Homo sapiens: one gene and its partners. The protein of the gene in region 4 purifies or fractionates together with the protein of the main gene of each other region. This does not show direct contact. Each region holds a gene or a part of one and is shown on either strand. Other genes may lie near its edges. The genes, in order: SUGT1, VCPIP1, TMOD3 and LRCH3.

Region 1 (7,029 bases), on a different chromosome or scaffold from region 4:
TATGCAAAAACCAGTGTATCTTTGGAAGTCCACATCTAAGGAAACGTATACTATTTAAAAGAAATTATAAAGATAAAAACAAATTTGTTTAAACCAAAAAAATTTCAGATGTTTACTTCTTTTTAAATTGAAACAAATACCAAGGGAGACCCACATACCATTCTGAGCTTCTTGACACCTTTTAATCCAGACACTGAAATTAGCATCTGCACCTAGAAAGAAAAAACTGACTATAACATCACTCATCTGCACAACCTATAAATCAACAAATACTTACTGAATACCTACTACATCCCAGGCAGTGTTCTAGGCACTGGGGAGTCGGCAGCGAACAAAACCTGTCTTAACAGACCTTATCACCAACTCTACTATAGTTATAAATATACCAATAGTTTAACATTTAGTTGTTAATCATGAAACATTTTGATTTTTTAAAAATTTTAACTACAGTCAACCTTAATTTCACAGATACAAATAATCTGCATTTCCCCCAATCCCGCTGCTCTTAGAGAAGCTTCCTCACACACAGAACAAAATCAGATGTAAATCAGACTCCCAATATGCCATCAGTTAGGGTGGGGAGGAGGCTTGGTAACTGGGAGCTGAGTTGAGGTTCAAAAGCCGTTCCCAGCCCCAGCTTGCTCTTCAATGCAGATACCTATTCAGTCCACTATTCTCTCAGTGGCTTTATCTGTTACCATGCCTTTCCTACCAACACCAAGCATCTTTAAATTCCGTGAAGTTTTGTCCTATCTCCAAGTTACATGGCAGTCGAGAGGCTATAGGTGATGTATTATATATTTATAGATAACAGTGTAAATGTATGCATAAACAAATTATTCACTTCTGGAGACACAGAACAATGATTACATTTAAACAGTCACAGTGCATAGTAAGATATGTTAAAAGTATTAAAAGTACTCTAAATAAGAGCTTATTAATTCAAGTTAACTGCAGACAAGATAAATTTGAAAATCTTAAATTAAAAATTTCTTAACAAAAATTTCTACTTTACTAATTTATAAAAGAAATCCAACTATACCAGCATTAATAAAAAATTTAAATACACTCTCACACACACTGTATTCTAGAGAACTATTGTATCAAAATCTATTATATCAAAAAGATTTGAGTAACCTATTATTTTAAGTAATCAGTAACTAAAACCAAGCAATTTATCACACAAAGAGGGGAAAAGGTAACAATTCTTTACCCTGTCTGATAAAAATAGAAGCCTAAAAGTTTAACTTAACTTTTTCCCAGATTTTGGCCGGGCATGGTGGCTCATACCTGTAATCCCAGCACTTTGGGAGTCCAAGGCAGGTGGATCACTTGAGGTCAAGAGTTGGAGACCAGCCTGGCCAACACGATGAAACCCCGTCTCTACTAAAAATACAAAAATTAGCCAGGCTTGGTGGTGCATGCCTGTAGTCCCAGCTGCTCAGGAGGTTGAGGCAGGAGAATCACCTGAACTTGAGAGACAGAGAACTGCACTATGGCCTGGACAACACAGTGAGACTCAGTCTCAAAAAAAGAAACAAACAAACAAACAAACAAAAACAAAAAAAAACCCCAAAAAACAACAACAAAAAAAGTTTCCTGGATTTAAAGACAAATTTATTTTTAAGTAAAATATCCTCAACAGCAATTTTACCAAACAGGTCTTCCTCTGAAGGCCACCTCTGAAATAACTAAAGAATAAATGTCAATGGCATGATATTAAGATATTACTCAAGAAAATAATCTAGGGGCCAGACGCAGTGGCTCATGCCTGTAACCCCAGCACTTTCAGAGGCCGAGGCAGGCAGAACGCTTGAGTCCAGGAGTTCAAGACCAGCCTGGGCAACATGGCAAATCCCCATCTCTGCAAAAAATAAAATGCAAAAATTAGTCAGGTGTGGTGGCATGTGCCTGTAGCCCCAGTTACTCAGGAGGCTGAGGTGGGAGGATCACTTGAGCCCAAGAGGTGGAGGCTGCAGTGACCCAAGATCGCACCACTGCACTCCAGCCTGGGCGACAGAGCGAGACCTTCTCTCGCTAAAAAAAGAAAGAAAAATGAAAATGTAGAGAATGGTATGACTCATGTTTCTTCAGGATTTTCACATTAGGTACCAAGGCACTACATAACTTCACTCTAGAATTTGCTAAGAGTGCAGATGTCCTGTTTGCTGACTGAATAGGCCTACTATTCACATACCAAAACTGGGATAAGCAAGTTTGAGAATAAGCCTTATCACCCAGACCTCTCCTTTTTTAATTTGTAGCTTCCATTTGCATAATCAGTGCTAAAATCCTTTTTTCTGAATAGGTACACAACAGAAAGGCAAACATTCAAAACAGTACAGAGTAAGAATGTAACATAAAATACTAAGAGTGAAGTTTCTTAATTTCAGCACTACTGACATTTTGGACCATATACTTCTTTGTTAGGCAGAACTGTCCTGGGCATTATAGAATATTTAGTAGCACCCCTGGTTTATACTCATTAGATGTCAGTAGCACAACCCCCATCCACCATTCATGATTATCAAAAATCTCTTCAGACATTGCATAAAGTTTCCTGGGAAGCAAAACCGTTTCCAGTTAAGAACCACTTCTTTAGAGAACTGTGATAAAACTCTATCATAACATAAAGATAAAATGATAATACAAGTAGGATTATGTAGTCTCCAATTTTCTGAAATTACTCACAACCTCTTAGTATTTTTCAGATTTAAAAATTCTTGGCTCTCGGCTGGGTGCAGTGGCTCATGCCTGTAATCCCAGCACTTTGGGAGGCCGAGGAGGGTGGATCACAAGGTCAGGAGATTGAGACCATCCTGGCTAACATGGTGAAACCCCATCTCTACTAAAAATACAAAAAAATTGGCCGGGCGTGGTGGTGGTCGCCTGTAGTCCCAGCTACTCGGGGGGCTGAGGCAGAAGAATGGCGTGAACCCGGGAGGCAGAGCTTGCAGTGAGTCGAGATCGCGCCACTGCACTCCAGCCTGGGCGACAGAGTGAGACTCCGTCTCAAAAAAAAAAAAAAAAAAAAAAAAAAAAAAAATATATATATATATATATATATATATTCTTGACTCTCACAATTTCTATATGTCTAGATATCCACACCACTGTGATACTTTTCATATATTCCCTCAAGAATATAACATTAAAAGTCACAATACTCTCAAAACTGTGTTTCTTCTGTACCCTCTCATAATTTACCCAAACGTACACTTCACTTCTCCATAAAAACCTTTAATGTTAAGATTTCACATCTCAGCAATCTGAATAATTTAAAATGAACAGACTTCTGACCAAGGCAAATTAAACTTTCACTTCTCCATTAGAAAAAAACAAAGCCAGACTAAACAGAGAGAGCATGTTAGGTGTTTCCATAGTTTTTTTTACTTCTAATGGTGAAGTTCATCTATGATTTAAATGCCAAAAGGCTAATTTAATCGATTTTAAGTGATCTCATATCTGCAATCAATATGAAATATAATTTAGATGAGAAAAACAGGTATTGGGTTTCTACAATTAACTTGAAATTAACATTACCAAAATTCAGCTTTGGTATTTAAGACAGAAATAGATAAGTTTATTAAAGTATAATTTTTAATACTTACTATCTAATTTTTGTCCTTCTGTAAAAGTTTCTAGGGCAGCAGCATAGTTTTTTTCATGGTATTCACATATTCTGCATGAATATATTTAAAACAAATTAAGACACACAAAAAATCTGGAAAATACCTTCTTTCTAAATAAAAAACTTAGTATTTTCTACTGTTGAAAGAAAAAATTTATTTTAAGTGTATGTTAATAAACCTAGAGACTTTCTAATATACTGTTAAGATCTAGTACAATTCCTACTAAAATTCAATTTTAGAACTCACTTCAGAAGGAATCTGACTTTAATTGTACAGACTTGCTTACTCAAAAATATAATTATACAAAGGAATTAAAGAAGTTTCTTAAAGAATAGTTATACTTATCAACAGAAACAAGATGGGATATAAAGTATACAGATATAGCGCTTTCATAGCATTAAATGTAGCCTATTCAGCTTTGCTGAATAGGATGTTGTCCAGTCAATTAAATATAGTAAATTCCAAAAGATTGAAAAAAAAAAAAAAAAAAGCAATGTGAAATCTATCAGTTTCATCTATACCTTGCAAATACTTCAATCATCACTATTTTAAAATTTACTAAGTACAGATCTCCTATCACATACTTTGGTTAACAAAATAATAGAACTATAAGTTGTATTTAAAATTGAATCATATCTCTGCTATATAATGTATAAATACAGAATTTTACAACTTATATAAAGCTTGCAATGAACTCATTCAACAAATTAAATACCTACTATCTATACCAAGCTCAACAAGAAGAGTAGCTACTGCATACCCTTTTCTCAGCATAGCAGTGGAATTATTTGGATTGAGTTCTAGAGACTTCTTTGCATCAGCAACAGCAACTGTGTAGAAAAAGACGGGTTTTTAGTCAGTTATTTATAGATCCTAGCAAATACACACAACATATGAATCAGTTTTAGATTTCTAAGTTTTCAAGTTGGTAGAAATGCCAAATGGTTTTAAATTAGGAAAAGCTAATACAAGATAGAATTCAAATAAATATTACTCTTGTACCTTCCTTTTGGCTTAACATTTAGCTTCCTTCTTAAAGCTCTTCAATGAATACAGCTGTGTCACAAAATTCACCTCCTTGTCTCATTAACATTTTCTATGTAATTTTACTCAAGGTATTCAGTTTTTCCCTATTCAGAAGGTACAAAATACAGAAATACATTACTTTTTAAATACAGGTGGTCTTGTTATGTTGCCCAGGCTGGTCTTGAACTCCTGGGCTCAAATGATCCTCCTGCTTTGGTCTCCCAAAGTGTTGGGATTACAGGCGTGAGCCACCATGCCTGGCCACATTCTTTTTTATAAAAAAAATTTAAACGAGCATTTCATTTTAATAGTCTGTCAAATAGTAAATGTGATGCTATTTTTTATCAGCATACCCAATAACTATGAATGAAATCTGTATACATTCTCCACCCAATGAAGGAAAAAGCGACATCCATAAAATTTAAATGGGTGTTGCTCAACATGTCTGTCACATTTGAGCTACTTTACCTTGTATAAAAGACCAATTTAAAAATTCTCAAAGACAACTTTTAATTTGTCATGGGTAAAATGTATAAGTAACTTATTAAAAGGGGGCAATATACTTTATAAGAAACGTTACCACAGTAATTCCCAAGAAGAATGTGACAATAAGCTCTTTGACAATAATACTGTGCATCATCTGGTTTCTGTTCCAAAGCCTTAGTCAGCTCCTACAAAAACAAACATGTGGAGCGTCAGTAAAAGTTTGTAAGAAGCCATCAAATTCTAATTAAAACATAATTTTTAATCAAGTAACTTATTGTCAGAAGCTATTTGGAGGAAAGATAACACGGATATAATATTGGAGTTTTTCCTTATAAAAGGATCAATATCTCCCCCACTTCTCTTGCCCCTCCTCCCAAAAGTAGGCAATCTAATGTAGCATCTCTGTACCGTAAAGCTTTTAGTTCCTGGTCTATAGAACTTAATAAATGATCATTATTATCAGCTCATATATTCTGAAGAGTTTAATTGTTACACATTGACCATTACAGATTTCCTCCTACTAATTTGAAGAAGATTCAAACACCATATAGAATTTGAGATTCCTAGAAAATGTTAAGCTGTGCAATAAAAAAAGACCAGAAGTTAAATCTAGCACTCAGGGAGGTTAAGACAATCAATACATACACAATCAAGTGTACCTGGCCCTCTCCTAGCCTCTAACAATAGCACACAACTCTAATAAAACCCAACTAAATATTCTGTTCAAAGCCCAGATACAATCTAATAGATGGCTATGTCAACTACCAAGAGTTAACATTAGAGATTGAAACTTTTTTAACTTGTGCAGTCACAACATATAGGTGTGGTAGCTGGAAAAATAATGATGTAAGAGATTACACAATTAGGGAGATCAAAGACAAGTGCAGGAACACTTTTATTTTCTGCCAACTGCCTACAAACTCTAGGGATTTGGTAGTTTTCTTAAATGGTAAAATTATTTCAAGAGCCACATGTATCATTGACTTTGCTTTAACCTAGTAGTGTGACTCTCAGAAAGCAACATATACAGATGCTCCTCAACTCACATGGGGTTACAGTCAATCAACAGAAAGTAAGGCTCAAATCAAGAGAGCAAAGAAGCTGTAAGATGCTACTTTAAGGGCCTCACTTTGTAGCTTGCAGGCAGTTATAAGGAATTTGGACCTTACGTTTGATGGAAAGCCATGGAAAGTTCACTGTTAGTAAGGGGAACATGGTCCAATTTACTTTTTTTTAATGTCATTCTGGCTGCAGTATGGTAAATACATTATCAAATCAAGACTGGAAACGGAGACTTCTTAGGAAACTATTACATTAAGTCTAGGCTAGAAAAGGATGTTAGCCACAGAGGTGATGAAAAGAAATACGATTAAGTTGGAACATATTAGAAGCAGAGAGACTTGCTAATGGGTGAACATGTGGGATAAGAGAAACTGAAGATGACTCCAGGGTGTTGGGCTTGCCTAGATCTGTATGTGACATCCAGTAATCACTCAATGAAAAGTATTGATTTTTCTTCTTGCAGACTTTTTTCAGCCTTTTCCCCAGTCTCTACTTTGACTGCATCTCCTTTGCCATAGAATACAAAAATATTTGCCTCTCTAGTCTTAATCTTCTCAAAGTCACTAATAACCCCTTATAAAATCCAACTGATTCCTATCTGACTTGATCTCTCTGTGGCCCTTGACAATAATAACCAGGCCTTTCAGCTTACCATTCTGCTGCCTCTTAAAAACTAATGTTCTCCTTGGGCTCAGTACTTAAGACTTCTTCCCCTCTACAAACATTCTTTGATTCCTTAACTACTGGGGGGCTTCACATATGTGTTGATGCATGCTGATGACTCAAGTCTATCTTGAGCCTAGACAGTGGTCCTGGGCAACAT
Region 2 (7,029 bases), on a different chromosome or scaffold from region 4:
CCAAAATGTATTTTTAAAGCCCCAAAAGAAACACCCAAAACGAACTCTGAACTCAACTATTTATGACCATAAAATGAAGTACTTGTTTATTTAAATTTAAAATTTAAAGAAACAATTCAAAATTTTTTAATAATTTGAATAAATGGTTCCAAATATAAAGTAGGAACACAGGACTGTTTCAACTAGACAGAATTCCAAAGGTAAAGGTATTCATTTGCTGAAAGAATTGTTGGCATCTCTCTACCCTTCCTGACGTAATCCTCACGTTTAAAAGTTTATCTACCCTATTGATAGTCAAAATGGTTTATAAAAAAGGCATATCTGTTTCTTGCCTGAAATTCAGTCCCCTTAACGGTATATAGTCACACAACTTTAGTGTCACCAGCAGCATTAATGAATATTTTTATCATACACAGACATGCACACAAACTCAACAGTGTTTAAATGTGTACAGAGTCTGAAAGGACACATCCCAATTTATTAATAATGATTTTATCTGGGGAGTACAAATGTTAAGAACTACCATATTTTATAGGTACTTGAATTATTTGAATTTTAAACATTATATTGTAATTGAAAAAATATTTAAAATAAAAGTGATCAAAGTAGTTGGAACAGAATCTATTATTATCTAGATTTCCTTTTCTATCTAGAAAGGAATAACATCAATATTTGACTTAATTTTCAAAGTATAATTATATAAAATCACCATTTACAATATATACATTTATCTTAAGATACACCTATGCATTATTTTTTATTCAACTTTATAACTGCTCTCCCATTACAAGTATGCTACATATAAATCAACAGAAGGGCTATCAGAAGGCATAGAAAGAATAATAATATGCAGCCAGACACGGTGGCTCACGCCTGTAATCCCAGCACTTTGGGAGGCCCAGGTGGGCGGATCACGAGGTCAGGAGTTCGAGACCAGCCCAGCCAACATGGTGAAACCCCGTCTCTACTAAAAATACAAAAATTAGCCAGGTGTTGTGGCAGGCGCCTGTAATTCCAGCTACTCGGGAGGCTGAGGCAGGAGAATCGCTTGAAACTGGGAGGCAGAGGTTGCAGTGAGCCGAGATTGCACCACTGCACTCCAGCCTGAGCGACAGAGCAAGGCTCCATCTTGGGGAAAAAAAAAAAAAAAAAGAAGAATATGCATAAGTACTATCTAGATTTGAAACTGCCCTTTACCCAACATTTGAAAAAAAAAAAGGTGCAATAATAATATTCAGTTGTCACCTAAAAAATAAGTGTCTCAGTCCCAAGCGTGATTCTGGAAAATTCTTTTTTTCTTTTTTTGAGACAGAGTCTCACTCTGTCACCAGGCTGGAGTGCAATGGCATGATCTTGGCTCACTACAACCTCCGCCTCCTGGGTTCAAGTGATTCTCCTGCCTCAACCTCCTGAGTAGCTGGGATTACAGGCGAGCGCCATCATGCCCGGCTAATTTTTGTATTTTTAGTAGAGACGGGGTTTCACCATCTTGGCCAGCCTGGTCTCAAACTCCTGACCTCATGATCCACCCGCCTCAGCCTCCCAAAATGCTGGATTAAATGCGTGAGCCACCGCACCCAGCCGATTCTGGAAAATTCTAAGGCATTTACGACATCAAGAGGTATTATGAAATTACAAAATATTGTGTATTTTAAATATATATATACGTTAAAAAGCCACACAATTCTTTCAGGAACAGAGAAAGTATATCAAAATGAAACAAGTTTCTCAACTCCTGAAAGGTTGGTACACTTTGTAGTAAAGCAAGGAAGTGTCATGTAGCCTAATTTCATTTAAGTAACTCCAAACTGACAAATTCTGTTCTTCACCTAAATCTGTCCTTACCTCTAGGAAAACAAAAAAACAAACAAAACTAGAAACTTAATGAAATATAACACTAAGAAAAAATAAATTAGCCCAAATATTTATGGTGGATAATGTACCACCTATCCTGTCTACCATGAAAGAAAACCTACAAATAACTGATCTACAAGAAATTTTTTTTTTTTTTTTGGAAAGAGTGTTGCTCTGTTGCCCAGACTGGAGTGCAGTGGCGCAATCTTGGCTCACTGCAACCGCACCAGGTCTACAAGAAATCTGAATGACATATTTTGCAAAGCCAGAGTTAGTCTTTTAAGTATTATATAAATAATGAAGATGACTGTCTGCAAAAAATTAAGTTCAATTACTTTGTGGTCTGGATAAAAGAGATTAAAAATGTAAAATATTATGGGTAAAATATTGTTATTCCATTTTATAGTTCCTAAGATTCAAAGTTACTAGGTTCCATGAATGACTTGTACTAAGCCAAAGACTAATACACCTACTTATTGTTTTATTAATATAAGTAATAGACGATCTAATCAATGAATATCCTACTTAAAAATGAAAGAAAAAGCTCATGTCCCTGGCTATCATGCAGTCAGCCCATTTAGTGAAAACATACAGGCCGGGTGCAGTGGCTCACGCCTGTAATCCTAGCACTTTGGGAAGCCGAGGCGGTGGATTGTCTGAGCTCAGGAGTTCGAGACCAGCATGGGCAACGTGGCGAAACCCCATCTCTACTAAAAATACAAAAAATTAGCTGGGCGTGGTGGTGCGCACCTGTAGTCCCAGCTACTTGAGAGGTTGAGAATCACTTGGACCCAGGAAGCAGAGGTTGCAGTGAGCTGGGATCACACCACTGCACTCCAGGCTGGGCGACAATCTGTCTCCAGAAAAAAAAAAGAAAGAAAATATACAATCCCCATGTATATATTTGATTCTTAATCAAATGAGAAGTTCTAAAATGCTGTGTTGGTCCTATTTGGGGATTTTATAATTTTTATGTATTTAGAAAATAAAGCTGGAGATCTGCTGATGAAAGCTAAAAAGTATGGAACTCCTTCAGCTGAAAGCCTGCAGGTAAGTTAATGGAGGGCAAGCACTGACTTTCATTTATCTTTGTACACTCAACATACATACAAGTTCATAGTATACACTGATTTTGCTGAAATAATTGCATTCATTAATCCAACAAGCATTTACTTGGTACCTACTATGTGCCAGGCCCTGAACTAGGAAATAAGGTATTGATTAGTGAAGAAAATAGGGTTCAGTCTCTGTCTTGATGGACTTTATAATATAGTGGGGGAGGCAAACAAATAATTAAACCAACAAATAAGATTATTAAAAATTGTGATAGATGCCGTGAGGGACATCAACAGGGTACACTGATAGAGGGAACCTACTTAGAATGGTCAGCAAAGTTTTCTCAAACCCTTACAGGGTGGTGGTATTTAAGCCTAAACTTAAACGAGAAAGAACCAGCTATTTGAACAGCATAAAGTCTGATGAGCTATATTCTAAACTAACATAACACAGCTTAGCTCACATTTGGTAATTCACAAAGTAATTTCTGCACTTTGAAATCTGTAATCTTCTAAACAAGCTCTGTCATTTTCTAGTCCTCTCCAATCTAAACATCAACAGTTCCCCAGTACTCTTTACATATGGTTAGTATTTATCCCCAAACTGAATTTTGTAGGAACATCTTTTTTTTTAAATTAAGAATATCTTCGGCCAGGCGCAGTGGCTCATGCCTGTAATCCCAGCACTTTGGGAGGCCGAGGAGGGCGGATCCCCTGAGGTCGGGAGTTCAAGACCAGCCTGACCAACATGGAGAAACTCTCTCTCTATTAAAATACAAAAATTAGCTGGGTGTGGTGGCACGTGCTTGTAATCCCAGCTACTTGGGAGGCTGAGGCACGACAATTGCTTGAACCCAGGAGGCAGAGGTTGCAGTGAGCCGAGATCGCACCACTGCACTCCAGCCTGGCGACACTGCGAGACTCTGTCTCAAAAAAAAAATCTTCTACATAATTCAAATACAGTCATAAGCGAACTAGAGGAAGAAAACTAAGATTTATAAGGGACTAATATAATACAGGCTATGCACTTAATACTTCAATTTAAAGCAGAAAGTATCTCAAGTGATATCATTACAAAAGTAACACAATGCTCTCTTTTACACCCAAATTTTGTGTTGGTAGTGGAAGAAGTTTTAAAGAAATTTGTGGGTTTATACAGGCATAAATGCTGGATATGAAGAGGGAAGGGATCAGAATAGAAAGACATTATCTTGGTGAACTCATTGCAGTCCATACTCTAGGTTCTCTCAGATATTCAGGTCCAAGAACCTCCAACCAAACTCAGAAAGTATTTATACACCAGAATTATATTTGATTAATTTTCATTATGAAATATATTATCAACCAGGCACAGTGACTCACGCCTGTAATCCCAGCACTTTGGGAGGCCGAGGCGGGCGGTTCATGAGATCAGAAGATTGAGACCATCCCAGCTAACACGGTGAAACCCTGTCTCTACTAAAAATACAAAAAAATTAGCCAGGTGTGGTGGCACATGCCTGTAATCCCAGCTACTCAGGAGGCTGAGGCAGGAGAATCATTTGAACCCAGGTAGCAGAGGTTGCAATGAGCTGAGATCGCGCCACTGCATTCCAGCCTGGGCGACAGAGTGAGACTCTGTCTCAAAAATCTATATATAATCATACCGATCAGATTTTTTTTTTTTTTTTGAGATACAGTCTTGTTCTGTCGCCCAGGATGGAGTGCAGTGGCACGATCTCGGCTCACTGCAACCTCTGCCTCCCCGGTTCACAAGATTCTCCTGCCTCAGCCTCCTGACAAGCTGGGACTACAGGCTCCTGCCACCACACCCGGCTTATTTTTTTTTTGTATTTTTAGTAGAAACAGGGTTTCACCATCTTAGCCAGGATGGTCTCGAACTCCTGACCTCGTGATCTGCCCGCCTCAGCCTCCCAAAGTGCTGGGATTACAGGCATGAGCCACCGTGACTGGCTCTGATCATATTTTTAAGACTACTGATCATAATCCTGCCCATGTCCGTTTATTAGTCTACAATGGAGAATACAGCTTTCAAAGTGAACACGTCCTTATCTGCACTGTCACCTGTACATCAAAACTTGTTATCAGGAAGCTAAATAAGTGTTACGAATAGATGCCTGATGAACATGGAAATCAGGCAAAGGGATAGAGATGTTTCAGCCAGGCCACAGTCAGGATTGTTCAAATATTCCTACCCCTCGACAGAGATTACCTTTCTAGTTACCAGAATTTTCATGAACCCCAGATGATGTACCTTTTTCCTTTGTACAGCAGTATATGAACATTGCCGAATTCTGCTTTTCACTTTTTTCAATGTTCAGTGCTGACTGACCATCCATTCCATTTCTGCAGATACAGCCTTTCTTTAGCTGTGTTAATGTCATCTATTTAATTCAATTAAAAAACATTTCAGAGTGCATACTACCTGCTGAGCACTATTATCAGGTTCTGTGCATACAAGGATAAAGGTAAGAGCCACATTCTCAAGAGTCCATCTTCTATTGAGGAAGATCTTCTCTTTCCTGTTTTTGACCTGGGAGATTGAAGGTCTTTTATTTATTTACTTATTCATTTATTTATTTATTTTTTGAGACAGAGTCTCGCTCTGTCGCCAGGCTGGAGTGCCGTGGCGCGATCTAGGCTCACCGCAACCTCCAACTCCGGGGTTGAAGCGATTCTCCTGCCTCAGCCTCCAGAGTATCTGGGATTACAGTCACAGGCCACCTAGGATTTGTATTTAAGTACACTAGCATTCGTATTTAAGTGACCTTGATCACAAGGTCAGGAGATCAGGACCATCCTGGTCAACAAGTTGAAACCCCGTCTCTACTAAAAATACAAAAATTAGCTGGGCATGGAGGCGTGGGCCTGTAGTCCCAGCTACTTGGGAGGCTGAGGCAGGAGAATTGCTTGAACCCGGGAGGTGGAGTTTGCAGTGAGCCGAGATGGCGCCACTGCACTCCAGCCTGGAGACAGAGCAAGACTCCATCTCAAAAAAAAAAGAAAAAAAAAAAAGAAATATATAAAGTGCGTAGGACAGTTCCTGACATACTCCCCAATTCAATTACTATGTCTGGCAAACTAAAATCAACAATTCCGGGTTCTAAATTTGTGCAGGGTTTTTAGATCCCCTATTTACTACTCCCCCAGATAAGCCAGGAGTAGTATTCATTTTGATAGATTAAGGCCCAAATCACTGCCATATAGTACTATCAGAAAACAGAATCAAAACCCAGATGACTTTTCTCGTTGAAAGCTTTAATCTCAGCAAAAATAAAACCCTTCCAGTAACTAACACATTTAAATTTTACTTCATACTTTAAGACTTAGTAAAGCATACTAAGTTATTTCAAAACAAAGACTAAGCAAATATAGACACTGTAAAAAGTACACCATTGAACAGTATCCCAAATCATCTAAAGCTTTAAATTACACATTTGGTTAATATATTTTTCTTTAATTTATGCTGATTAAAAACAAATACTTCTTTACACCATTACCATCCATCTCTGTTTATGTTTCTCATGAACTACAACTTATAACAGTTCATTATAATTGATGGCAAAGACTTGAGTAGTGAAATTACTTAAATACAAATCCTAGTGTACTTACATACAAATCCTAGTGTATGAGAAAGAAAAATGTGATGAACTGGGAAAGGAAGAAAATGAAATGTAAGAGACTACTAGGTGGGAGTGCAGTGAGAATATAAACACCAGAAACTGCAATTCATCAAACAGGAAGTGCTGAAATCACATGACATACAGGAAAATAAAAATTAAAAATAAATGAAAAAGGGGCAAGGTAGGCAGGATCAATAGAGCCTACCAAAAAATTTAAAACGCTTTAAATAAATACAAGTCTGTTTTTTAAAAAGCAATTGCAAGAATAAGATATATTTAAATAATCTGTTGACTATTATTGAGGGACTACCTTAACTTTCTATTTTCCTAATAGTTACTCAATAATCCTATTAACATCTATCAACTGTTCAAAATACTAAAAATAATTCTCTCCTGAAATATATAATTAAAAACTTACAATGGCTACAGATTTCTTTTCCCCCAAAGATAACAGGAAAACTCAGTGTATTATATTTACAATTAAGATATACCATCAG
Region 3 (6,602 bases), on a different chromosome or scaffold from region 4:
ATAACTAATTTTATATGATTCAACTTAATATGGTGGTATTTAGCCAGGTCAGATTGTCCTAACAAGATACCATAGACTGGGTGGCTTAAATAACAGAAATTTATTGCTTACGTTCCTAGAGGCTGGGACGTCCGAGATCATGGTTTGGTTCCTGGTGAGGGTTCCCTTCCTGGCTTGCAGACAGCTGCTGTTTTGCTGTATCTTCACATGATGGAGAGAGTCTCCTGTCTCTTTGTATAAGAACACAAATGCCATCATAAGGGGACCAACCTTGTGACCCTATCTAGCCTTAATTACCTTCCAAAGGCCCCATCTCCAAATACCATCACATTGGAGGTTAGGGCTTCAACATGTGAATTTGGGGTGGGGGGGCGGGTGTGGATACAAACATTCAGTCCATAACAGGTAGGACTGAATAACTCAGGGAAACTGATAAACTTTTTCTTGAAGAAGGATGTAAGGAATGAATTTTAGAACTTAGGAACTAAAGGGATTATGTGCTTTTTCAAAAAGTCCAAGTTTACAGAATATTTGATAAACTTTATTGAAACGATTTATCCCAGTATATATTGGTAAGTTCTAAATGCTTCCAGTACATAGTCTTCAAAAGAAACTTCACTGTGCTGTTATGAATTTGGATAATATTTTGTATTATTTAAATACCAGTGTTAAAATTCATTGCTTTTATACTTATAAAAATGGAAAAATAGGGCAATTACAATGTTGGATATTTTAGCATTAGAAAAAAACGTAAATACCTGATTTCATGTGACAATGAATGACATTCAAATGATTGTTAGAAAGGTAATTTTCAAGCTTTTAAATGTAACTAAAACCAAATATAATAATTCATCCAAAAAACTGAAAAAAAGACATTTGAAATTACAAAAATTTTTATGTTATACGTGTATATACATTTGAAAAAACAATTCTTAAATGGATTGATCTGAAAATTTGAAACCACTGAATCAAAAGCTTATCTTTCTGAGTAGAGGTGAAATTTAAACTTCTAAAAACTGCTATATACACCCACCAAGAAGCACCAATAATTCATTCTTAAACCTTACTTTCTGAATGTATAGACTATAATATTTGAAACATTTTAGGCCAATTAATTGCTTTGCATCAATTAAAACATACTGAGTGTAGAAAAGGGAGTAAAACCTCATATATATAGATTCTAAGAGGTGTCTGTCTTACGAATGTAATAATTTGGGCTGGGCGCGGTGGCAAACACCTGTAATCCCAGCACTTTGGGAGGCCGAGGCGGGTGGATTACGAGGTCAGGAGTTCGAGACCAGCCTGGCCAAGATGGTGAAACTCCGTCTCTACTGAAAATACAAAAATTAGTCAGGCGTGGTGGCGGGCACCTGTAGTCCCAGCTACCCAGGAGGCTGAGGCAGGAAAATCATCTGAACCCAGGAGGCGGAGGTTGCAGTGAGCTGAGATCGCACCATTGCGCTCCAGCCTGGGCGACAAGAGTGAACCTCCATCTTAAAAAAAAAAAAGAACTTAATAATTTGTTACAGCTATGTTAGCAAAACACTGCTGGTGGTATTTCTTAATACATATATTTTTTTGAGATGGAGTCTCACTCTGTCACCCAGGCTGGAGTGCAATGGCACAATCTCGGCTCACTGCAACTTCTGCCTCCCAGGTTCAAGTGATTCTCCTGCCTTAGGCTCCCAAGTAGCTAGAATTACAGGTGCGCATCACCACGCCCAACTAATTTTTTGTATTTTTAGTAGAGATGGGGTTTCACCATGTTGGCCAGACTGGTCTCGTACTCCTGACCTCAAGTGATCCGCCCACCTCAGCCTCCACAGTGCTGGGATTACAAGTGTGAGCCACTGCACCCGGCCATTACAATCTATTTTTATCTAGCCTCTAGAGCAGGTGTCCTAAGTAAAAGACAAAAACAACAACAAAAAAACCCATTTTTTTGTTTTGTTTTGTTTTTTGAGACAGTCTCACTCTTGTTACCCAGGCTGGAATGCAGTGGCATGATCAAAGCTCACTGCTGCTTCAACCTCCCAGGCTCAAGCAATTCTCCCACTTTAGACTCCTAAGTAGCTGGTACTATAGGTGTCTGGCTAATTTTTAAATTTTTTGTAAAGATGGGGTCTTGCTATGTTGTCCATGGTAGTCTCAAACTCCTGGTCTCAAGTAATCCTCCCTGCTTGGTCTCCCAAAGTACTATGAGTATAGCTCTTTTTTTTTTTTTTTTTTTGAGATAAGAGTTTCACTCTCATTGCCCAGGCTAGAGTACAGCAGCATGATCTCATCTTACTGCAACCTCCACCTCCTAGGCTCAAGCGGTTCTGCTGCCTCAGTCTTCCGAGTAGATGGGACTACAGGCATGCGCCACCGCACCCAGCTAATTTTTGTACTTTTTGTAGATATGGGGTTTCACCATGTTACGCAGGTTGGTCTCAAACTCCTGAGCTCAAGTGATCCGTCGGCCTCGGCTTTCCAAAGTGCTAGGATTACAGGCATAAGCCACAGTACTTGGCCAAAATTCTTTATGTGTTAATGAAGGCTTTCCAAAATACTTAGTTATGGCTTAAAATAGTTTACTTAGCCATGTCTTTTTTCTAGGTTGACCTTTCTGAATGATCAGACTGCAAGATAGAGTTTAAAATTAATAAAATATGTTTTATTATCAAATTTCTAATTCATTCATTTTTTATAGGGAAGAACTTATAGAACTGAATTATAGTGGAGAAAAATCAATACAGGTTGAGTATCCCTTATCCAACATGCTGGGACCATTAAGTGTTTCAGATTTCAAATTATTTTGGATTTTGGAATACTGGGCATTACACCAGTTCAGCATCCCTAATCTGAAAATCTGAAATTCTAAATGCTCCAATAAGCATTTCCTTTGAACACTATGTTAGTACTCAAAAAGTTTTCAATTAGGGATGTTCAATCTGTAGATCTAAGAATGACCAAATTAAAATATAAGAATAAGGCTGAGTGTGGTGGCTCAAGCCTGTAATCCCAGCACTTTGGGAGGCCGAGGCGAGTGGATCACCTGAGGTCACTTTGAGAACAGCCCGGCCAACATGGTGAAACCCCGTCTCTATTAAAAATACAAAAAGTTATCCGGGCGTGGTGGCGGACGCCTGTAATCCCAGCTACTTGGGAGGCTGAGGCAGGAGAATCACTTGAATCTGGGAGGTGGAAGCTGCAGTGAGCTGAGATCGCACCACTGCACTCCAGCCTGGATGACAGAGTGAGACTTGGTCTCAAAAAAGAATATAAAAATCTTTGCCTCTGAATACTATTTTCTCAATTTAAAAATAATTAGTGAAGCGTTTCTTTGATTTGTTGGTAAGCAAATCTTAGGGTAAGAAATATCCAGAAACATTAATGATCAGTGAGAGCTGATGGAGAGGATAATTTTACAGATACTTAGACCCCAAGAACTCATAGCCCTTAACTGAGAGCAGCAACCCGAGTTGTCTCTAGTGCATCCATATGTTTGCTTCTCTTGGGTGACATGGGTCAATACGTTCAAAGTGCAGTAACACTGTAGAATGAGTAAATTTGGGCAGTACTAAACTTGCAAAGAATGGAAGTGACTAAGGACTCCAGAGAAAGCATGATCCTTGCATCTGCTGGGAGGTTAACAGTGGTTCCTAGTTTTTTAGGGAAAAAGTGAGGCAGCCCTGGGAACACAGACCCTAAAATGTAAGATTTTATAAAACTTCATAAATGTTGTCATCTTATTTTAATGACAGCAAGAGTTAAATATAACGTACAATATGATATGAGTAACATTTTATAAAAAAAAAAAAATTTTTTTTTTTTTGAGACGGAGTTTCACTCTTGTTGCCCATGCTGGAGTGCAATGGCGCGACCTCAGCTAACTGCAACCTCCGCCTCCCGAGTTCTAGTGATTCTCCTGCCTCAGCCTCCCGAGTAGCTGAGATCACAGGTGTGTGCCACCACGCCTGGCTAATTTTGTATTTTTAGTAGAGACAGGGTTTCTCCATGTTGGTCAGGCTGGTCTCGAACTCCTGACCTCAGGTGATCCGCCCACCTCGGCCTCCCAAAGTGCTAGGATTACAGGCGTGAGCCACCGCACCCGGCCCAAAACATTTTTTAAAATAATTTTTATTATGTCATGGAATCCTCTTTTTAAACAAAAACACAACAGATACTCGGTCAACTGGAAAACAATTTATAGAATTCTATTTACATGTAACTTCTCCAGAGCGAATATCTTATACAAAGCAAGGATGTGGGTTATTTCAATCAAATAACATGAAGTCGCAATTAAATGACCAAGCTAACTCTCCTTGAAGTCTCTAACCATCTGCTAATTTATTTAATACAAAATGCTTATTTGGTCTTTTAAATGACAGGCAACTTTGAAAGTGTATTTCACCTATTCTTGAGAATTCTACTAGGCTTTAGCTACAAGAATATAGCACCAAAATCCATTTTAATAGTATTAATATTTGCCACTAATATTGAGTTTTTAATACATACAATTTCATGTAGGAATACTGGAAAAATTCAGACAAATATGAGTATAACATTTTATAAAATGGGTAATAAAAAGCTTTTTTAAAAATAGCAATTTAAAAACACAAAGAATATTCTTTTAAATAACCACATAAGCTGGTTAGACTACAAAACCTAAGGTCTCAGAAAACCTTTGGCTTAAAAATTAAGACTATTGCAAAACCCTAATCTATTTATTATAAAATTTTAGAGCAATTTAGAAATACTGAAAGTTACTAAGAGGTGCCAGATTTTTAAAGATTGAAGTAAACCCGATTTTTCTCCCTTATAATTTTGGAAAGATTTTGTAAATTCAATTGGATGAATGTTCATATTTAATGTCACTTATGAAGAAATCATTTCTTTCAGTTATACAATGAACTACTATAATGCAGAATTGAAATGGTACAAGCAAAATACTCAACTTCATACTTTGATAAATAATATATGAAAAAGATATTACCCATAAGTATGATGCAAAATTTTAGGTAGAGTCCCACTTACCTATATTAAAAACAAAAACAAAAACAAAACTTAAGGGATGAAGGGGGAACTATTTATCAACTAATTGACTTACAGGACAATGCAAACGAGGATGCCTGACTGAAAGTCTAGGTGACCAATTCTTTCTGGTAGCCTGAGATGCCTGCTCCATGCCTGACTCCCAATCTTGCTGGAACTGTGCAGTCTCTATAAAATCAAGTACAATCAAAAAGCTGCATATGCGGGGAAAAAAAAAGAGAGGAGAAGAGAGGGAGGGAGAGAAATAGGTAAATAGAGAAGGTAGGAAGGGAGAGGGATGGAGGCAAGGGAGGCAAGAAAGCAAGCAAGTGAGCCTTGCTAACTTAGAAAAATATCAGTGGCCTTTAACTGACAGGGAATAGTGCAAAGTTAACCTTTGGCCCCTATAAAACATTGGATACTGATTTAAAAAACAAAACAAAACAAAACCAAAAAACCAAAACAAACCAAAACAAAAAAAAAAAAAGAGAAACACCACAGTTCTTATGAGGGAAGCTTAGCCTGTTAAGAAGGCTTATTACCATAGCACACAAGAAGCTGCCTTGCTTATTAGATAAACTGTCCAGCCCAAGCCAAAGTAGCAGACATATTGCAATTCAATTTCAAAAAGTTTGTTTGTTTGTTTGTTTTTTGAGACAGAGTCTTGCTTTGTCACCCAGACTGCAGTGCAGTGGTACGATCTCAGCTCACTGCAATCTCCATCTCCCAGGTTCAAGCAATTCTCCTGCCTCAGCCTCCTGAGTAGCTGGGATTACAGGTGTGCACCACCACACCCGGCTACTTTTTTGATTTTTAGTAGAGACAGGGTTTCACCATGTTGGCCAGGCTGGTCTTGAACTCCTGACCTTAAGTGATCCACCCACTTTGGCTTCCCAAAAGTGCTGGGATTACAGGCGTGAGCCACTGCGCCCGGCCCAAAAAGTTTAAAAAAAATTAATAATGATTAGCCACCTTGCCTTCCTCAGAAATGAGACTTTTCCCTCCAGAAAAATCTCTGTAAATGATACAGCCAGGCCTGAATTTTGAGGCCAGGGCTACCTCAGATTCCATTCCTCCCTGTTTTCTGCAGCTGTAAATGCCTCTGCCATCTCCTGCTCCAGGGGCTGCCCTGAGACAGAACATGAATACAAGTCCAGACCCTCTACCCAGCATCAGCTCTGCAGTCTCAAATCAGTCTCCCGACCACAGTACTCTATTCAATTGTTCACCTTAATACTTTGAGCAAGAAAGACTGCTTTTATTATAGAAATGACTTTTATAAATATTGATAAAAGTATAAGATGAAAGGAAGCATATACTAAAAATTAGATTTATGAAGAATAGCAGTTTTCCTTCTTGGTTGGAAGATTTGTAGCAGTGATTAAATACTGTTTATGCAATTCTGCACTGCACATAGGAACTTCTTCGGATATGGTGTAACACCAAGTAATTTACATACATGCCAGCTTCCAACTGACTTACAGTAACCATCAGTTTAAATGACTGTTTTGCAAGTGCCTCATACTGGAAATCTATCATATTTATTATCTTTGATTTCATTGTTTAACAGTTTTCTTTTTTCTCTT
Region 4 (7,029 bases):
TAATCTAATGAGGAGAAATGCTTTAAATCTCTGACTATGCAAACTAGTCAGTGTGATAAGTTTACTTGGTATTTGAACAGTATAATCAAAAGTTATTTATTTATATATTACTGAAATGTATTAGTGACTAGAAAATGAAAACATATTTACCAGTTAAACACCTAAAATAACACTTAACCAAATAATATAATTTATTAGTTTTTAAATATTACTGTATGTACTTGATAGAAATGCCTCCCTTTCCCAATGTATGTTACATAAAATGTTGATATGATAAAAAGGAGCATACTTCAGATGAGTAATAATTTGGCTACATCTGTGTGACTTTATTTAGATATGTATAAAAGGCAAAGTCCACATATTTAAATACCTGAACATACAAGCTTGTAAGATTGCTCCAGATCTGCCGGATTATGATAGGAGACCGTTGGGTTTTGGCTCCTGGTAAGTATATTCTGTCCCTTTATCTATCATATTTTTTGTACAGAGAATCAAATAAAATGGATACTTAAATTTGCCTGAATGTTTGACTAAAGGGAAATAACCTGTTTTAACACTGTTATTCTCAGAATGCTTGTATTGTAAAGTTGATTACCTAGATCTGGCAAAGTCTAGTTCTAAGGGTTTCTCAACCTTGGCACTGTTGACATTTTAGATCAGATAATTCTTTGTTGTGATGGGCTGTCCTGTACATTGTAAGACATTTACCAGCATCCTTGGTGTCTGCCCATTAGATAGATGCCAGTAGTACCCTCGCAAAGTCTCCAAATGTCACCTTGGGGCCCTCCAGTTGAAAACTACTGGTCTGAGTGACTTGAACGCTAACTTTAGCTCTGCTGCTGAGGTAACTAGCCGAAGGCAAGTCATTCCTACTTTTTGAGTTTCATTTTTTCTACAAGGAGTCAAGAGTTGGATTTGTTGACCATTAACATCACTTCAGGATCTTTTAATCTATGAGTCCCTCAGCTACACAGCCTGTGACTTATAAGGTCATCTGCTTGGCAGTCCCAACCATCTGGAACAATCTCTTTTTTTTGAAACAAGGTCTTACTATGTTGCCCAGCCTGGTCTCAAACTCCTGAGCTCAAGCATTCCTCCCACCTCAGCCTCCTGAGTATGGAGCAGTCTTAAGTAGCAAGAATTAAATTCTTAGGCCTTTAAACAAGCAGGATAGATGTTTCAGTCAAAGTGAAGTAATGTTTATGGACTTTACTCAAAAGAGAACCTCTCAGGCCTTCTCTTGAACCTCTCAAATTTTGCTTAAAAGCACAGTCCTAGTAAACTCGCCTCATTGGACGAACAAGAATTGCAGAGGTGTGATTGTTTTGAAGCTGGATAATAATGAGTACATGAGGTCTCATGCTATTCTGTTTGCTTTGTTTCTATTTGGAATTTTTCATATTAAAAAATTAAAGCCCATTTAGTTCTAATAGTTAAGTGACTGCCACATTTCTTGTTTTTTAGAAAATTGATCTGTTTAATTTCAAATTTTAATTGTTAAAATAACAAACTTTGCAGTAACAGAGTCTCTTTTCGGCAGCCATGAAGAACTGTACTCAAGTCGCCCTTATGGAGCCCTTGATTCAGGCTTCAATAGTGTGGACAGTGGTGATAAGAGATGGTCAGGGAATGAAGTAAGTGTTTTTTATGTTCCGTGTGTTATAACACCTGATTAAGAGAAAACAGAATGATGAAAATGAAAAGCGTCTTAACTGGATTCAGTTTCTCACTACATAAAATACAGAAAAGTCAAGGTGGAGGCAAGATTCCCACCCTCTCCAGCAGAATTGGCATTCTGCGTCCTTACCGGCTTTCTGTCACGTGGATTTCCGCCTGTTTCCTCATTGCCTCATGGAAATAGTTTCATATCATAGAAAGGCAAACAGGAGCTGAGCCAGTTGAAACTGAAGCCTACAATCTGAGGTGGGGGGTAATCTCGAGCAGAGGTGCTAGATGGTGAGAAAACAAGTAGGACTTTCGGCTGATGGGTAGAGACAAGGACCTTAGTAAAGAGTATTCATGTGCTCAAGAGGAATAACTTCCTGGCTAATTCTGTCGTTTTTCTCGTTTTTAAATTATTGATATTATGTTTTCTGCTCTTAAAAATTACTGTGTCCACAGAGGTCTACAGAAGAAAAAAAGTAAAAAAATAAATAAAAATTACTAATGTGTAATATTTTAGCTATGCATTAAGTTATTAAGTAAACTTTTGTTAGCAAGACTGATAACCTACTATTTATAACATTGTTTTACTGTGAATTGAAACCAAATTAATTTTAGACCACATCCCATTTGAAATTTGGAATTACTTGTGTTTGTATGTCTTGGTGGGTGGGTTCATAAATGTGGCTGTATCAATACAGATATATATGTAGATATTTTAAATCTATATATATATAATTTATGGAGTCATGAATCTTTTATATTTTTTGAGACAGAGTCTTGCTCTTTCACCCAGGCTGGAGTGCAGTGGCACGACCATGGCTCAAGCAGTCCTCCCACCTAAACCTCCTGAGTAGCTGGGACTACAGGCTTATGCCACCATGCCTGGCTAATTAAAAAAAATTTTTTTTTAGAGACATGCTCTCCCTATATTGCCCAGGCTAGTCTCAAACTCCTGGGCTTGTCATTCCCATCTTGGTCTCCCAAAGTGTTGGGATTATAGGCATCAGCCACCACTCCAGACCAGATTTTTATTTTTTTGAAATAGGATCTCGCTTTGTCGCACAGGCTGGAGTGCAGTGGTGGAATCCTGTCTCATTGCAGCCTCGAACTCCTGGGCTGAAGCGATCGTCTCGCCTCAACATCCCAAGTATTAGGATTACAGGCATGTGTGAGCACATCTAGCTAATTTACTCCTGGCCTCAAGTGATCCTCCTGCTTTGGTCTCCCAAAGCGCATGGATTACAGGCATGATCTGCCAGGCTCTAAAATGATTGTTTTTAATGTTTCTGCTTCTTTTTTAAGCCTACAGATGAATTTTCAGATCTGCCTCTTCGAGTAGCAGAGATTACTAAAGAACAAAGACTACGAAGAGAAAGCCAGTACCAAGAGAACCGCGGCAGTTTGGTAGTAACAAACGGCGGAGGTAAACATAATTCCGGTGACAGCTAAAGTGTTTGCAACCATTTAACTTTTTAAAGTTGTCTTTTTCATACCCACTCCTTTTGTTGGTGTATCTATAGCTTCTTCACTCTTCTTTTAAAGACTTCTTTTCATATATGATTGAAAAATACTATTTTCCATTGGGATGAAACTATGATTTCTGGTTTCAGTCAGAGTTAAAATACACTATTTCTCCCTTGTTTTTATTTTGGGAGGAAACTTTATTAGAGACAGTACACCTGGAGCAGATCTTTGTTAATCTGGATTTAATCACGACCTTTTGAAGTAACATTCTCCCTTTTTAAGATTCTTGCTGTGGTCATTATTTGATCTCTTTTAGGAATTTAGTCCTTTTTTTTTTTTTTTTCAGTGTTTACCTTTTCTTCACCTGGAATTGTCAGATGCTCTTCAAAGTCATCTGAATCACAGTTTTCCTTATTCTGACATTAAAAAATTTGTAGTTCATTAGCAAGCAGCACTCTCTCTACTTGCTTATACTTCCGAAGCAGACTCTTGATTTTCGCATTCAATTCTGTATTGCTTGAATTGGTTTGAATTTAATGTTTAATGTTTAATTTCATATTTAAATTTTGAGGGCCAGTTATAATGGAAAATAACTTTGATTTTCCAGAAACCTATTGCTTATCCGAGGAGAGCTTTCATTTCTCAGTGACGATTTCAATTAAATGGTTTGCTGTCCTTTTCCTTACCATCTTAGATTCTTTACTCCTGTCGTTACCATTTCATTTACATTTCAGTAGTTGTCTTTTAAGTGTTTCTCTCATATGAGGTATCTTTCTCCATCAGTTTATTTAAGACTTAAAATAATGTTGAGATCTGTGCCGGTATGATAGCCACTAGCCACATGTGATAATTATTGAGTATTTGAAATGTGTTTTTTTAGGCTGGGCGTGGTGGCTCACGCCTGTAATCCCAACACTTTGGGAGGTTGAGGCGGGTGGATCACTTGAGGTCAAGAGTTTGAGACCAGCCTGGCCAACATGGTGAAACCCCATCTCTACTAAAAACCGAAAAAAAAAAAAAAAAAAAAAAAAAAGCAGGGCATAGTGGCATATGCCTGTAATCCCAGCTACTCGGGAGGCTGAGGCAGGAGAATCACTTGAACTCGGGAGGTGGAGGTTGCAGTGAGCCAAGATCACGCCACTGCACTCCAGCCTGGGTGACAGAATGAGACTGTATCTCGAAAAAAAATCAGAAATGTGGTTTTTCCAAATTGATATGTATTGTAAGTATAAAATACACATCAGATTTTGAAGACTTCCTTTGAAAAAAAGCGTGTAAAATAGTAATATTTTGCATTGATTATATGTTGAAGTGATATTTAGACATATTAGACAATGTAAAATATTAAAGTTAATGCTGCCTCTTTTACTTTAAAAAATATGGCTACTAGAAAATTTCAAACGACATATGTGGTTCACCTTCATGGCTTGTGTTATTTTTCTCTTTGGCCACACTGGTCTAGATTGGATGAAGAAGTAAAGTTACTTTCTTCAGAAATCGTCTTAATATAAACCATTAATTTAGTCAGAAAAGTTTTAGCACATTTAAAAAATGCATTTATGTACCTGGTTTCTAATGTGGATGTAAACTTAGAACCTTTTCATCTTTTTTAGCTATTAATAAAACTCTAATAACTCAAAATTCAATTTTATATTAATTGTAGTCACAGAATTATTTGTCAATAATTGAGTCAGAAGACTAAATTGAGAAATAGGCTTCCCCAAGTTCACTGTTCCAGCAACTGCGATTTTTAGGCAGCCTGTAGAACGTCATGAAGTAACAGGTTGTGGTTTAATGCATCTCTGGAAAAACTATCTTAGTAGGAAGTTTTTTTTTCTAGTGTGCCATTTTAAGTAGTTGTTTCATTACTTTTAAACTTAAAAATAATGGGGGATTCCCAAACTTAGCAGATGAACAAGATGTGGCTAAAAATAATTTATATACGTCTCCTCACCCTAAAGCATTTTGAGAAGAAGAAACTCCTCAAATGAATCCCTTCCCATCCATAAACTATTATAAAATATCTACATTGCTGACCTCTAGCAGATAGTTTTCCAAATAGGACAATCTTTGTTCTGATCTTTTTTGTTTCTGCTTAATTGACAACAATTACAGGAAGGGAGATAGTAGTCAGAAACTCTTTCTTTCTCGAGTCCAGTTTACTCCTACCTTTTCTCTTTTTTGTGTGTGGCCTTTGACTTTCTCTTGAGTTGACTGTGTTCGGTTTTCCACCTGCCATCTCCTCACGGAGATATTAAGCCCCAGACCTAAAACACGAAAACACAAAGATGCACCTTTCAGTCTTTAAAAATTGGTCTTCGCTCTTTGTCTCACAAACTGAAACTACTGTGTTTAAAACAGTAAGGAGCTGTCCAAAGAAAAATGGTAGAGGTCTCTATTTCAATAATTATCATCAATTGCTACATTCTTTAGTGAACTAGGACTAAGGTTTTCTGGAGCCTATTTTTGTGAGTGGCCATGAACTAAATAATAAACACTTGTGTGCCAGGCACGTTGGCTGATGCCTGTAATCCCAGCACTTTGGGTGGCCACAGTGGGCGGATCGCTTGAGCCCAGGAGTTGGAGACCAGCCTGGCCAACATGGTGAAACCCCGTCTCTACTAAAAATACAAAAGTTAGCCGGGCGTGGTGGTGCACACCTGTAATCCCAGCTACTTGGGAGGCTGAGGCAGGAGAATCGCTTGAACGTGAGAAGCAGAGGTTGCAGTGAGCCAAGATTGCACCACTGCACTGCAGCCTGGATGACAAAGGGAGACCCTGTCTCAAAAAAACAAAACAAAATAAAATATAAGTAAAATTAATTTAATTTTTTTTTTGTTTTTGAGACGGAGTCTTGCTATGTCACCCAAGCTGGAGTGCAGTGGTACGGTCTTGGCTCACCGTAACTTCTGTCTCCCGGGTTCAAGCAATTCTCTTGTCTCAGCCTCCCGAGTAGCTGGGACTACAGGCGTGTGCCACTAAGCCCAGCTAATTTTTGTATTTTTAGTAGAGACGGGATTTCAGCATATTGGTCAGGCTTGCCTTGAACTCCTGACTTCAGGTGATCCACTCACCACCTCCACCTCCCAAAGTGCTGGGATTACAGGCGTGAGCCACCAACCTTGGACATAAAATGGGTAAAAAAAAAAAAAAAAAAAAAGACTTAAGTAATTTAAAGTTTTTATCATCCCTCCCACTTTCAAAATAGAAAATCATGGGGAAAAGGAAATAAGTAAATGTCTTTTATTGGCTATCTAATTTGAATGTTTTTTTCTGGTGTGTGTGTGTGTGTGGGTGTGTGTGTGGTGTATACAGTGGAACATGATCTGGATCAGATTGACTACATAGACAGCTGCACCGCAGAGGAAGAGGAGGCCGAGGTGAGACAGCCCAAGGGACCAGACCCAGACAGCCTTAGTTCACAGTTTATGGCGTATATTGAACAGCGGCGAATCTCTCATGAGGTAGTACACAGATTGAAGCCTAAATATGTTGCTATCCCTTCATAAAAATAATTCATAATAGTATAAAGTTTTGTTATATCAGTGATTTGTTGACTGAAGCCTAATTGTTTTCATTATGTTCACTTCTGATTTCAGTCCTGAGTTTTTCAGATTTATTCAGAAAACTCAGACAGCAGCCTCAAGTAGGCTTTAGGTTTATTTTTCAAACAAGAAGAAAGATTTCAGAATTTTGCAGGAGGAATAAAAGAAGTCTAGGTACTGTTAAGGCCTTGGAAGAAAGTACAAAGAAAAATACAGTGATGCTTTTCATTGTTGTTTTTATTGCTTTTTTATTGTTACTAACTGATAAATCATAGTTTGGTCAGTAGTTAATTAACAGTTAAACCAAAAAGTTGACTTTTGTGGCAACATGCAGACTTAACCATAGAATTTTTAT

Evidence for each region.
Region 1: the proteins of LRCH3 (region 4) and SUGT1 purify together in Homo sapiens (co-immunoprecipitation; 4 studies listed by BioGRID and IntAct, with this or other methods). This does not show direct contact.
Region 2: the proteins of LRCH3 (region 4) and VCPIP1 purify together in Homo sapiens (co-immunoprecipitation; 3 studies listed by BioGRID and IntAct, with this or other methods). This does not show direct contact.
Region 3: the proteins of LRCH3 (region 4) and TMOD3 purify together in Homo sapiens (affinity purification with mass spectrometry; 2 studies listed by BioGRID and IntAct, with this or other methods). This does not show direct contact.

Annotation. Positions count from the first base shown.
Region 1 is NC_000013.11:52,655,832-52,662,860, reverse strand, and holds part of SUGT1 (protein SGT1 homolog), read right to left. Parts: intron 5,330-7,029; coding exon 5,239-5,329; intron 4,763-5,238; exon of another isoform or gene 4,654-4,762; coding exon of another isoform or gene 4,635-4,653; intron 4,463-4,634; coding exon 4,393-4,462; intron 3,683-4,392; coding exon 3,612-3,682; intron 1,387-3,611; coding exon of another isoform or gene 1,291-1,386; intron 213-1,290; coding exon 159-212; intron 1-158. UniProt on the Homo sapiens protein: May play a role in ubiquitination and subsequent proteasomal degradation of target proteins.
Region 2 is NC_000008.11:66,657,203-66,664,231, forward strand, and holds part of VCPIP1 (deubiquitinating protein VCPIP1), read right to left. Parts: intron 1-7,029. UniProt on the Homo sapiens protein: Deubiquitinating enzyme involved in DNA repair and reassembly of the Golgi apparatus and the endoplasmic reticulum following mitosis. Necessary for VCP-mediated reassembly of Golgi stacks after mitosis.
Region 3 is NC_000015.10:51,909,643-51,916,244, reverse strand, and holds the end of TMOD3 (tropomodulin-3), read right to left. Parts: 3' UTR 520-6,602; downstream 1-519. UniProt on the Homo sapiens protein: Blocks the elongation and depolymerization of the actin filaments at the pointed end. The Tmod/TM complex contributes to the formation of the short actin protofilament, which in turn defines the geometry of the membrane skeleton.
Region 4 is NC_000003.12:197,829,230-197,836,258, forward strand, and holds part of LRCH3 (DISP complex protein LRCH3), read left to right. Parts: intron 1-334; coding exon 335-444; intron 445-1,535; exon of another isoform or gene 1,536-1,540; coding exon 1,541-1,634; exon of another isoform or gene 1,635-1,668; intron 1,669-1,807; exon of another isoform or gene 1,808-1,994; intron 1,995-2,045; exon of another isoform or gene 2,046-2,125; intron 2,126-2,967; coding exon 2,968-3,088; intron 3,089-5,298; exon of another isoform or gene 5,299-5,396; intron 5,397-6,444; coding exon 6,445-6,593; intron 6,594-7,029. UniProt on the Homo sapiens protein: As part of the DISP complex, may regulate the association of septins with actin and thereby regulate the actin cytoskeleton.